Regions from separate parts of the Homo sapiens genome. Here region 1 is linked to region 2. Evidence: fine-mapped expression QTL. A gene starts in region 2. The other region holds a variant in brackets. All regions are shown on one strand. Distances are between the middles of the regions.

Region 1 (5,331 bases), 44 kb before region 2:
ATCTCTAAAATACAATAAAATGGACATAATTTTTGGTACTACTCAGTTTGTAAGGGGATTAAGTTGGGGGAAAAACTTAGGGCTTTAAGGGAAATTGCTTTCTGACTTGGGAGGGAAAAAGACATAATTGTGGCTATGTGGCAGAAACCTTTGGAGAGGTGCCCAGAAAAGTAGAAAGCCCTGTTCCAACCCTCTTTCTCTATCTAGCTCCTCTATCTTAGAAGACATGACTCCCTGTTCCAAGACTGGGACGTGCTTGCTTCTTGCCGTTGGGACTTACTGAAGATAATGTAGCTACAATTCAGTGACTTGGATATGGTTCTTCACCTTTATAAGATGCAGTCTGAGTAGCACCCTAAATAATATAGTCATCTCTCAGTATCCACAGGGGATTGGTTCCAGGACCCTCCTGGGATACCAAAATCCACAGATGCTTGGGTTGCTGATATTAAATGGTGTCGTATTTGCCTGTAAACTACGCACATCCTCCCTTATACTTTAAATCATATCTAGATTACTTAGAATACCTAATACAATGTAAATGCTAGCACATAGTTGCTATATTGTATTTTACATTTTGTATTATTTATTGTTGTTTTCCTTCGAAATATTTTCCACCTGAGGTTGGTTGAATCCCCAGATGCAGAACCCACAGATACAAGCGGCCGACTGTATGTGAATGAAGGGGTAACTTCTACAGTAAAACATGTTTTTTAGGACAAGTTTTTTCTCTGAGGAAATAAAATCTTCACTGGTACTCTTTTTTTGTTATATTTAGGACAACCATGTGACTTATCACAAACACCAGGACACTTTTGTGGATGCAAGGGAGGTGCTTTAATAATTATACCTGGAGTCTGGGCGTGGTGGCTCACGCCTGTAGTCCCAGCACTTTGGGAGGCCAAGGTGGGTGGATCACCTGAGGTCAGGAGTTCGAGACCAGCCTGGCCAACATGGTGAAACCCTGTCTCTACTAAAAATACAAAAACCAGCTGGGTGTGGTGGTGGGCACTTGTAATCCCAGCTACTTGGGAGGCTGAGGCAGGAGAATCGCTTGAACCCAGGAGGCGGAGGTTGCAGTGAGCCGAGATCATGCCATTGCATTTCAGCCTGGAGGGAAAAAGCAAAACTCTGTCTCAAAAAAAAAAAAAAAAAAAAAATTATACCTGGCAAACAGGAACCAGAATGATTCCAGGCCATATATCCAACTGGGACATATAACCACTTGCTTAGAGCACAAGGTTGGTGGTTAATAAATATTAGGATCACATTGTGTACTCCCTGCTCCCCCCGGCATGTGAGGTAAGAGCTAATCACATTGTGTAACATTTAATCCTTAATGTTGATCACCTAATTTTTATTTTTTTGAGACAGGGTCTTACTCTGTCACTCAGGCGTGGTGCCATCATGGCTCACTGCTACGTCTGCTTCTTGGGCTCATGTGATCCTCCCACCTCAGCCTCCCAAGTAGCTGGGATTATAGGCATGAGCCACCACGCCTGGGTGATAATCTGATTTTTAAAAAAGGAATATTCATATAGAGCTACTATATTAGATGTGCATTGTTTGGGGTATGCTAACATACCTAGTGGATCTCTAGCTAGAGGGAATGAAGAATGTTTTTTCCCTCATGGTACTTTGAGCATTATTATGTTTATAGGTAAGGGAAGTGAGCACAGGAAGCTAATCAGTTGCCGTAAATCACACACCAGAGCTGAGCTCAAAGCTTAAAATAAAAACCCTAAAAAACAAATTCGTGACCCAACACTGATTTAAAAAGAAAAGTAAAAAATAAAAATACCAACTCTGCCCTGTGAATCCCCAGCAATTGTGTTGCTCGCTGAACCATGAAGGGCTGCCCTTTAGAATTTGATCACAGAGGCATCGAAGGTGGAGACTTATTACCCCTTTCAGACGAGAAATCTTATGCTGGGAAGCTGCTTTTCCTAGTTCGCACAAGTCCTCTTCATTCCACTTCTATAAAAAGCCCAAGTAAGAGTCCTAATCGTTAGTCATGCAGTTTAGTCTTTTTGTAGATTTGAGCATTCAAGAAAGGACGCAGGTGATTCATTAAGCTTAGTACTTGGGGTTTTTGTGTGTTGCAGTAACTAAGCAACAGTTAAGATATTTTAACTTAGCATGTCCTGCATTGGCACGTTTAAAAAAAGAACTGTCATGCCGTGCTTGGCAGAACCTCACTCTGACTCTTCCACACTCTGTGCAGTTCCTGTACATCTTGGCTGCCCATCCACTGCTAACAGAGACCTCTTCTGTCTCAGCTGCTCTGACAGCCTTGGCCTAGTGTGTGCCACTGCAGGGTAGCTGGATATCCATGTCTCCAATGACTGGTAACTGCAAAGGCTGGACCTGGAACTAGTGGTTTGATCATCCACTACCTTAATTCTCTCATTCACATTTTAAACCCACTCTTAACTGCTATACCTTTGAACATTTGCCTTTATGAAAACACAACTCAAGTTCTAGGTTAGCACTTGAAGAACTGTGATTATTCACAAAACCATGCATTTCAAACATAACCATTAGCTTTTTTTTTTTTTTT[TA/A]ACTGAATATCCGATGAAACTCACTAAATGAAGTGTGAGAGGTCTGCTACATAACATTCAATTTAGATAGATTTGATTGTCCAGATAGTTTTGGAAGAACTGCAGTACTAGATGCCTGAACAAAAAAAATAGAACCTAGTGGATAAACTCTAAGCCTTGATAACAGAAGCACTGGTTCATTATTTATGTGGTATGACTCTGGGAATTTAACCTCTAAACAGGATCTTGCTCTGTCGTCCAGGCTGGAGTGCAGTGTAGCCTCTAACTCCGGGGCTCAAGTGATCCTGCCACCTTGGCCTCCTGAGTAGCTGGGACTAGAGGCACATGCCACCACACCTGGCTAATTCTTCAATTTTGGCTTGTGGAGATGGGGTCTTGCTATGTTGTCCAGGCTGGTCTCAAACTCCTGGCTTCAAATGATCCTCCTGCCCTGGCCTTTCAAAGTGTTGGGATTACACAGGCATGAGTCACTGCGTATCTCTTTTAAACTTGGTTTCCTTATCTCTAAAGTGGCTTTTAAATCTACGTATCTTTAAGGAAAGCTAGACTATATGACCATTAAATAAAACGACAAGCTCTGACATAAAACATAATCAGAGCAAAACTTAAAATGTTCTATTTCCTCTTTTCTTACGTAAAACTAAGTATGGCTTAGAATCCCATATGACCCAATTCTATTACACTTGGGAACCTCTGACTATGATCTAAATAAACCTCAAGTAGCAGACATGGTCATTTATAATGGTAGTTTTTTAAAATTTAAAAGCAGCAAATCTGTCCCCTTCCTGAAGCAACTTATCAGTAAGGAAAATACACGAAGTGCAGAGTGGAACTGCTCTAGGGAAAGCAGGGAGAGACTAAGCGTTATAAGCTCTACTTGGTCCTCTCCTCAGCACTGGGAAAATCAATTTTCCCAAATGAGAGAAAAAAGTTTAAGTGCCACGAGGGCCAGGCATGGTGGCTCAAGCCTGTAATCCCAGCACTTTGGGAGGCTGAGGCAGGCGAATCACCTGAGGTCAGGAGTTTGAGACCAGCCTGGTCAACATGGCAAAACCCCATTTCTAGTAAAAATACAAAAACTAGCTAGGACTGGTGGTGTGCACCTGTAATTCCAACCACTTGGGAGGCTGAGGCAGGAGAATCGCTTGAACTCGGGAGGCGGAGGTTGCAGTGAGCAGAGATTGCATCACTGCACTCCAGCCTGGGCGACAGAGTGAGACTGTCCCAAAAATAAGTAAAAGCCACAGGAATAAGCTCTATGAGATGACCCAAATCCTCTCCTGGCACTCGAATTCTATTGCATGCCTTATTTAAAATAAGTGAGCTAAGATTTAGAATTCTATTTTGCTTTGGAGATCAGTTGCAAAAGGATTGGTGCTAAGAGTATTAATACGGTGATAAAAAAGGACTTGCCTGGGTCAGGTAACCCACGATAGCATGTTTGTCAGAGCAATGTCATCTCACAACAGGAAAAAAAGAAACTGGCCCTGCTCCAGAATGGTCTTATTATTTCACCATCCATTTCATAACTCCACTTTAGGTGAATACTTTCATGGGATATTGAATAACATATCAAAAACAATTTAAAATTTTACAGCTGCATTTTGTCCAATCATAAGGCAAAAAGCAGAAATTCCTTCCAAAAGTAGCACTGCAAAGTATTCATTCATTCATTGCCCTACTGAAATTGGGAGTTCCAAGGAATGCCAGCGAAATCTCCTGTGGGAAAATGGTAAACTCCAAGTTTAATAATGTGACCCTCACTAAATGCGTAGCAGTTAATGATAAAAGTAGAACTATCTTTCATAACAGAAAGTGGGGGAGTGAGGGGAGTAGGGACAGACAGAGAAAGTTCCCTGACTTCATATTATCATATATACGGATAATCTGGTTACCAAGAGTAGCCTAGCCTTAAAAGAAGAGAAAATCACCACAATGGACACCATGTTGCTGAGAGGGTTTGCGGAGGAAGGGTGGTTTCCAGATATCCTTAGTGAATGCAGGTCACATGCAAAGAGGTATCTCAGGCCCTTTTTTCTTCCTTTTTGACAACAAATTTACAGTTAATTAGGCTCTGGACTTGCTCAGAGAAGCCCAGAATTGGGCCTAAAGAATAAAATAACATGAAAAATCTGTGAAACCATGAAAATACATTTTTTAAAAAAAGTTTCCAGGTATAATACACAAAAGCAAACAAGTTTATCTTAAAAAATACCAAGTATCACATCCATAGCCTATTCCTAATTATAATTACTTCTTAAAGCAACATTTGTCTTTGTTTACAAATACAGCAGCAGGTGATAAAACCTAGTATCTCAAACTGATTGCTTACAATTTATAATACAAACATATGTATATGTCTCAAATCACATTTTAGGCAGTTTAACTTAAAATGCATAGACAATTACATACATTAAATTTGTCATTACTGTCAGTGAAAAATCACAATTTCAAGAAGAAAATTACAACAAACTCATAGAGCACACATAAGAAGTCAAGTTCACTTAATGGCAACAAGTCAGTATCTGCTGATCAGTGACAGGCAGTGAAAGTGCCTTTATCCAGGGGTAAAGTGAAGAGGCAAACTATCCTGTTACTTTGCACACTTGAATTGTTGCGCTGATCAACACTACAATCTTGAAAAACATTAAATTCTTAAAAAAAAAAAAAGGCATGCCACATGTCACCCTTTAAGATGCCCAAAGGCTGGTTACAATTTCCACCAGTAGTGATCCTAACACGTTTAGGTAAAACTAATAATGAATGGGTA
Region 2 (5,383 bases):
TGCCTTTTATATCATATTAAGTATACATACAGACAAGTACTATTTACCCCAAAATTATTAAATAGGCTAGTAAGTTTCAGGACACATTTGGAAATATAAAAATCTTCACATTTCTAAAGTGCCTTCAATGTTTCTTTTTTCAATACTTTGGTCTCCTTGGCTATTGTTACACTCTTCTAGCCTTACCTTTCACAAGATTAATCATTTTTACACCAAGTACATATTTTACTAGAAAATAATTTTTTAAACTCCTTCCATAAGCCAATACTGATATATCCTCTTAGATAAATCCTGTAAGATCACATGATTTTATATAGGTAATACCATCATTGGTAGAATGGCAATGTACCCATGTTTTCTCACCCAATTGTCCTTGGGAGCAAAAATATTTGTGAGTCTAAGGGTAGTATGAGTGGTTACAACACAGCAAAGCTAACTAACCATCACTGCAATTCAATCTGTGACTTTGGCATCATTTTCAGTCAGTTCATTTAGCCACCCACACCTATGAGATAAGCACTGTTAATGACAAATAACTACATTTGGAAAATTTTTGATACTCCTATCAGTGACACAGCTACACTGATTTCTTTTTAAAAAACTATGTTATTTTAACTAACTAGACAATTTTGCTAATATTTAAGTTACACATCTTTCATTACTGCACTATCATCTTGATCATATTGTTTGAATGTCTATTTCCCTCAGCAAGACCATAAACTCACTGAAGGTATTACAATTTGTAGCCATTTGACTGAAACAAATGGAATTGTGAAAACATGATACTAGCAAAAACAAGAATACATTTTTTAATATTTGAAAAATTTACTGGATAATTATTTAAACAAATCCCACTTTAAACAAAAAACACTAAATACCCACCCAAAGCACCCCTTTAGTAACATGAGATATTAATAACAATTACTTTTATACATCCATGAGTATCTCCTATATACTCTAACAATGCGACGGAGGTAGGTGTCATCTCCATTTTAGAGATGAGGAATTCGATTTTCAGTAAAGGAACATATTCAAGGTCACACAATGTGTCAGTTAGAATTAAAACCCAGGACTGTTAAACTCGGAGGCTCAAGCTTTTACCATACATGCAAAATCTGCAAAGAAAATTGTTCTTTAACCTATGAATCAAATGGCTTGATTGATAAGAGAAAATGACAGATGTGTGGACATCAATCATAGTCTCATGGGTATTACAGATATTATAGTGAAGGCATTTTGTAGCTATAACTTGTTCCAATTTGCAGATTCTTCTTATGCTGAGCTCTGAATAGTACTAACCAGAAATCTCACCACGCTTTATTCAACATAGAGACGAATATTATGAGAGTTCATCTTGAACTCTATGTACTCTAGCCAATGATATTGTTACTTGAACGAAAAAATTTATAAGCCAGTCTATCCAAAAAACAAATGATCTCCAAAAAAAAAAAATTAGGTCACTCAGAAAGCATCATCTCTGGTACCACTGCTCTTTCGGGAGATCAACAGTGGGTTATTTTTCCACAAATCCCAAGTTGTTTTTAAGCCAATCATTCTTCCTCTTCATTCATATACAAACCTCAGCGTCTAGCAAGGCTATCTGGAGCTCTAGTACTAAAAACAACGCCTCACACAATGCCACCCACGGTAAGAACACGACGGTTTGCCTGTGTGTTTGCAACTTTTCACAATGGAACTAGATTGAAAAAAACAATAGGGAAACCTCTTCAACAGAAAAACGTCTCAGGTAATAAAATAAATGTGATTGATACTGGAAGGTATCACAAAAACGCAGAAAAATTCTCAAAGATAAGTACAAATGAAAGAATATCATTCTGAAGGTTTTCATCACAGGCTGCTGTACCAATATGGAGAATGAAGATACAAGAAAAGCATAAACTTAAACTTAGTGGCCAAGACTTTAGCAGATATTGCATGGATCAAATGTAAGTGCTCAAGGCTACTAAGTTATAACTCTTCTTTTGGTTATAAATATTCACTTCAGTAAACTTTAGGTGGGATCTGAATAGAGAACACAAGTTACTTTCTTCATAACGGATATATAGAGTCGCAAAGAATAAGCATTAATTGAGCATTAATTAATTATACCTTCAGGTACCAAGAGAACCAACCGGAACAGAAATTAAGTCATTCCTTCTTTATCTCTACAGAAGCGACAAGGTGAGGGCACGAAGGATGCCAAGATTAGAGGCTCTAGAAGATCTCGCCTTCTTTTCCAGAGAAGATGCTCAAAGATCTGTCTGCTAACTGGGCCCCAAGAAAGAGACCGGATCCTTTTAGGGATCCGGATATTGTTTCCTGGGAGGAGAGCCTGGAGGGCAGGAACAAGACCCCGGCCTGCGAGGCCAGGCAGCGGCCACCCTTCCCCCACTCACCTCCCGGAGCGCAGCTTAACTGGGGTTGTGCGAGTAACTGCTGCCATCACCATCGCCATCAGTCTGGGCGCTTGCTTAAGTGGAGAGGGGAGGCCCAACCACTCCTGCACCTCGTGTAGGTCTTACAAAGCAGATGCTTTTCTGCCACCCCCAACCCCGCTTCGGCGTTCCGGTCCCAACCCAGCCGTCACGGTCATCGCCTCCGCCGGTTCCCTGGGCGCCGCCACCACTTCCGTGTTCAGCTCCCTCCCTTCCTCCCTGATTTGCCCGGGCAACCGGCTAATTTCCACGCGGAGGGCGCCGCAGCTGACGCCACCACCCGGCGACCTCTGTCGGGACCTGCGCTGGGCGTGGGCGGGTCGGCGCAGGCGCAGTGTGGTGAGCGAGCCGAAGCGCGGGAAGCAGCTCTTGTGGATCCTCAGTGGCGGAGGCTCGGTCACCCGGGTGAGTCCCCACTCCGGCTGCCCGCGTCCACCAAGGAGATGCGTGTTCCCTTTCCGGCTTATTGTCTGACAGACCCTCTGCCTTATCCCGCTGGTGTCACTCGGGTGGGGGAAACCGGGCTGCGGAGAACGGGCCCTAGAGGAGACTAAGCTCTCTTCCTATCCCTAGCCTCGCTGCTTTTCTCTTTTGAAATAATAAGACTGGCTTTTATAAAACATTTTCAGATAGGTAAAGGAAAACATGCCTGCCACACGGAAGCCAATGAGATATGGGCATACAGAGGGACACACGGAGGTCTGTTTTGATGATTCTGGGAGGTAAGGTTCTTTGAGAAACAACGTTTTAGGTGCAAATGTTAAAACATTTATCCTTAAACTTTATATGTGCAGTCAGCTAAAAATGACTCATGCGGATAGAGGAATAATGTTGAAATCTAAAATGGCACACATATTTCTTTAGATTATTGTTTGATTCGGGCCGTCATGGTAGTTGTAGTATATCGACAAAGTTATAATCGTACTTCCAGAGGAGTTGGAAAGATGCGAGCTTCTCTCCATATATTTTCCCCTTCCCTGCATCTTACATTATTAATTTTGTCAGATCACTAGTTACTGCCTACTTGTCAAATTCAGTGGCCTGTTCTGTTTGGAATGATATCCTTCCATGCCTTTAGTGATGCTATTTCCCTTTTTGCTTATTTTTTTTTAACTTTTTGACGGCTTAAAACAATTTTTTCCTCTGATTCCTAAACTATAATATTTTCCTACGGTTATTCTGGTCCCTTTTATCTTTCCAAGTCCCATTCTTACGCACTACTGCTCGATTGCACGGCTTCCACTGTCGCTTCTATGTTGATTGATTCATTGAAAAAATACTTGTGTGTCTCTTTTGCTGGGGACTACAGATAGAATAGAGCGAACCAGACACAGTCTTTTCCTCCTTTGAGCTTAAGGTCTTTTTGGATTGACAGGCATTGAACACAAATTAATCACAAAAATAAATGTGTATTTAGAAACAAGTAATATGTGCAGTGATAAACATGTATGAGGAGAAGCTCATCTAGTTAAAGGAGTCAGGGAAGGCTTCTTTGGACAAGTGTTTCTTGAGACGCCATCTGAAGACGGAGCAGGCATTAAGCAGTATAAAGAGATGAGTGGTGGTGGCGGTGGGGTGGTGATGTTGGCATAGTAAGCAGAGGCAATACTGTGTGTAAAGGCCCAATGGGGCCAGGGATCATGGTATGCTCAAAGAACTGAAGGAAAACTAGCCTTACTAAAATGTGGAGAGTGATGCAGAGTTTAGTGAGAGATGAATCTGTGAAGTTAGGCAATGGATGTCCTATCCAAGACCTTCTGGACTTTATTAAGGAATCTCGTTTTATCCTAAAAGCACTGAGAAGGTATTAAAGGCTTGAAGCAGAGAGATGTGATCAGGTTTGTTTTTGAGAAAATGCATGGAGGATGAATTGGAAAAGGAGCACTCATGGATGCAGAAAGACTGTTAGAAGATACCTGTATTAGTTTGTGTAGGGGCGGGTTGCCCCTCCACACTTGTGGGTGTTTCTCGTAAGGTGGAACGAGAGACTTAGGAAAGAAAAAGACACAGAGACTAAGTATAGAGAAAGAAATAAGGGGACCCGGGGAACCAGCGTTCAGCATATGGAGGATCCCGCCAGCCTCTGAGTTCCCTTAGTATTTATTCATCATTTGTGGGTGTTTCTCGAAGAGGGGGATGTGTCAGGGTCACAAGACAATTGTGGGGAGAGGGTCAGCAGACAAACACGTGAACAAAGGTCTTTGCATCATAGACAATGTAAAGGATTAAGCGCTGTGCTTTTAGATATGCATACACATAAACATCTCAATGCTTTACAAAGCAGTATTGCTGCCCGCAGGTCCCACCTCCAGCCCTAAGGCGGTTTTTCCCTATCTCAGTAGATGGAGCATACAATCGGGTTTTATACCGAGACATTCCATTGCCCAGGGACAGGCAGGAGACAGATGCCTTCCTCTTGTCTCAACTGCAAGAGGCATTCCTTCCTCTTTTACTAATCCTCCTCAGCACAGACCCTTTACGGGACGGTCAGGTCTTTCCCTTCCCACGAGGCCATATTTCAGACTATCACATGGGGAGAAACCTTGGACAATACCTGGCTTTCCTAGGCAGAGGTCCCTGCGGCCTTCCGCAGTTTTTGTGTCCCTGGGTACTTGAGATTAGGGAGTGGTGATGACTCTTAAGGAGCATGCTGCCTTCAAGCATCTGTTTAACAAAGCACATCTTGCACCGCCCTTAATCCATTTAACTCTGAGTTGACACAGCACACGTTTCAGAGAGCACGGGGTTGGGGGTAAGGTTATAGATTAACAGAATCTCAAGGCAGAAGAATTTTTCTTAGTACATAACAAAATGGAGTCTCTTATGTCTACTTCTTTCTACACAGACACAGTAACAATCTGATCTCTCTTGCTTTTCCCCACAAGTTTGGGTAAGTGTGATAGAAGCTTGGACTAGAGTAAACATGGGTGTGTAGAAAAGAGTAAACA

Which allele goes with the higher level. Alleles are on the strand shown, and positions count from the first base shown. SD is a standard deviation of normalised expression in the study named.
With allele A in place of TA in region 1, the expression in monocytes after LPS of the gene that starts at base 2,769 in region 2 is lower (moderate effect, 0.59 SD a copy in Fairfax 2014).

The links. PIP is the estimated chance that this variant, and not a neighbour inherited with it, causes the effect.
Region 1: its variant is the best candidate, but not a certain one, in a credible set for the expression of WDHD1 in monocytes after LPS (Fairfax 2014, PIP 0.57).

The regions. Positions count from the first base shown.
Region 1 is chr14:55,068,911-55,074,241 of GRCh38, reverse strand. It overlaps MAPK1IP1L (mitogen-activated protein kinase 1 interacting protein 1 like), which reads right to left. Exons shown (of 4, transcript NM_144578.4): 4 at 4,048-5,331. Among named protein-coding and RNA genes, the nearest start is that of MAPK1IP1L, 20 kb to the right of the region's middle. RefSeq lists an enhancer at 1,909-2,028. The variant TA/A (reference allele first, on the strand shown) is at 2,561.
Region 2 is chr14:55,024,485-55,029,867 of GRCh38, reverse strand. It overlaps WDHD1 (WD repeat and HMG-box DNA binding protein 1), which reads left to right and starts at 2,769. Exons shown (of 26, transcript NM_007086.4): 1 at 2,769-2,840; 2 at 3,065-3,157. The coding sequence starts at 3,081. SOCS4 (suppressor of cytokine signaling 4) reads right to left here and starts at 2,632. Exons shown (of 3, transcript NM_199421.2): 1 at 2,397-2,632. RefSeq lists enhancers at 1,893-2,419, 2,420-2,947 and a silencer at 2,742-2,791.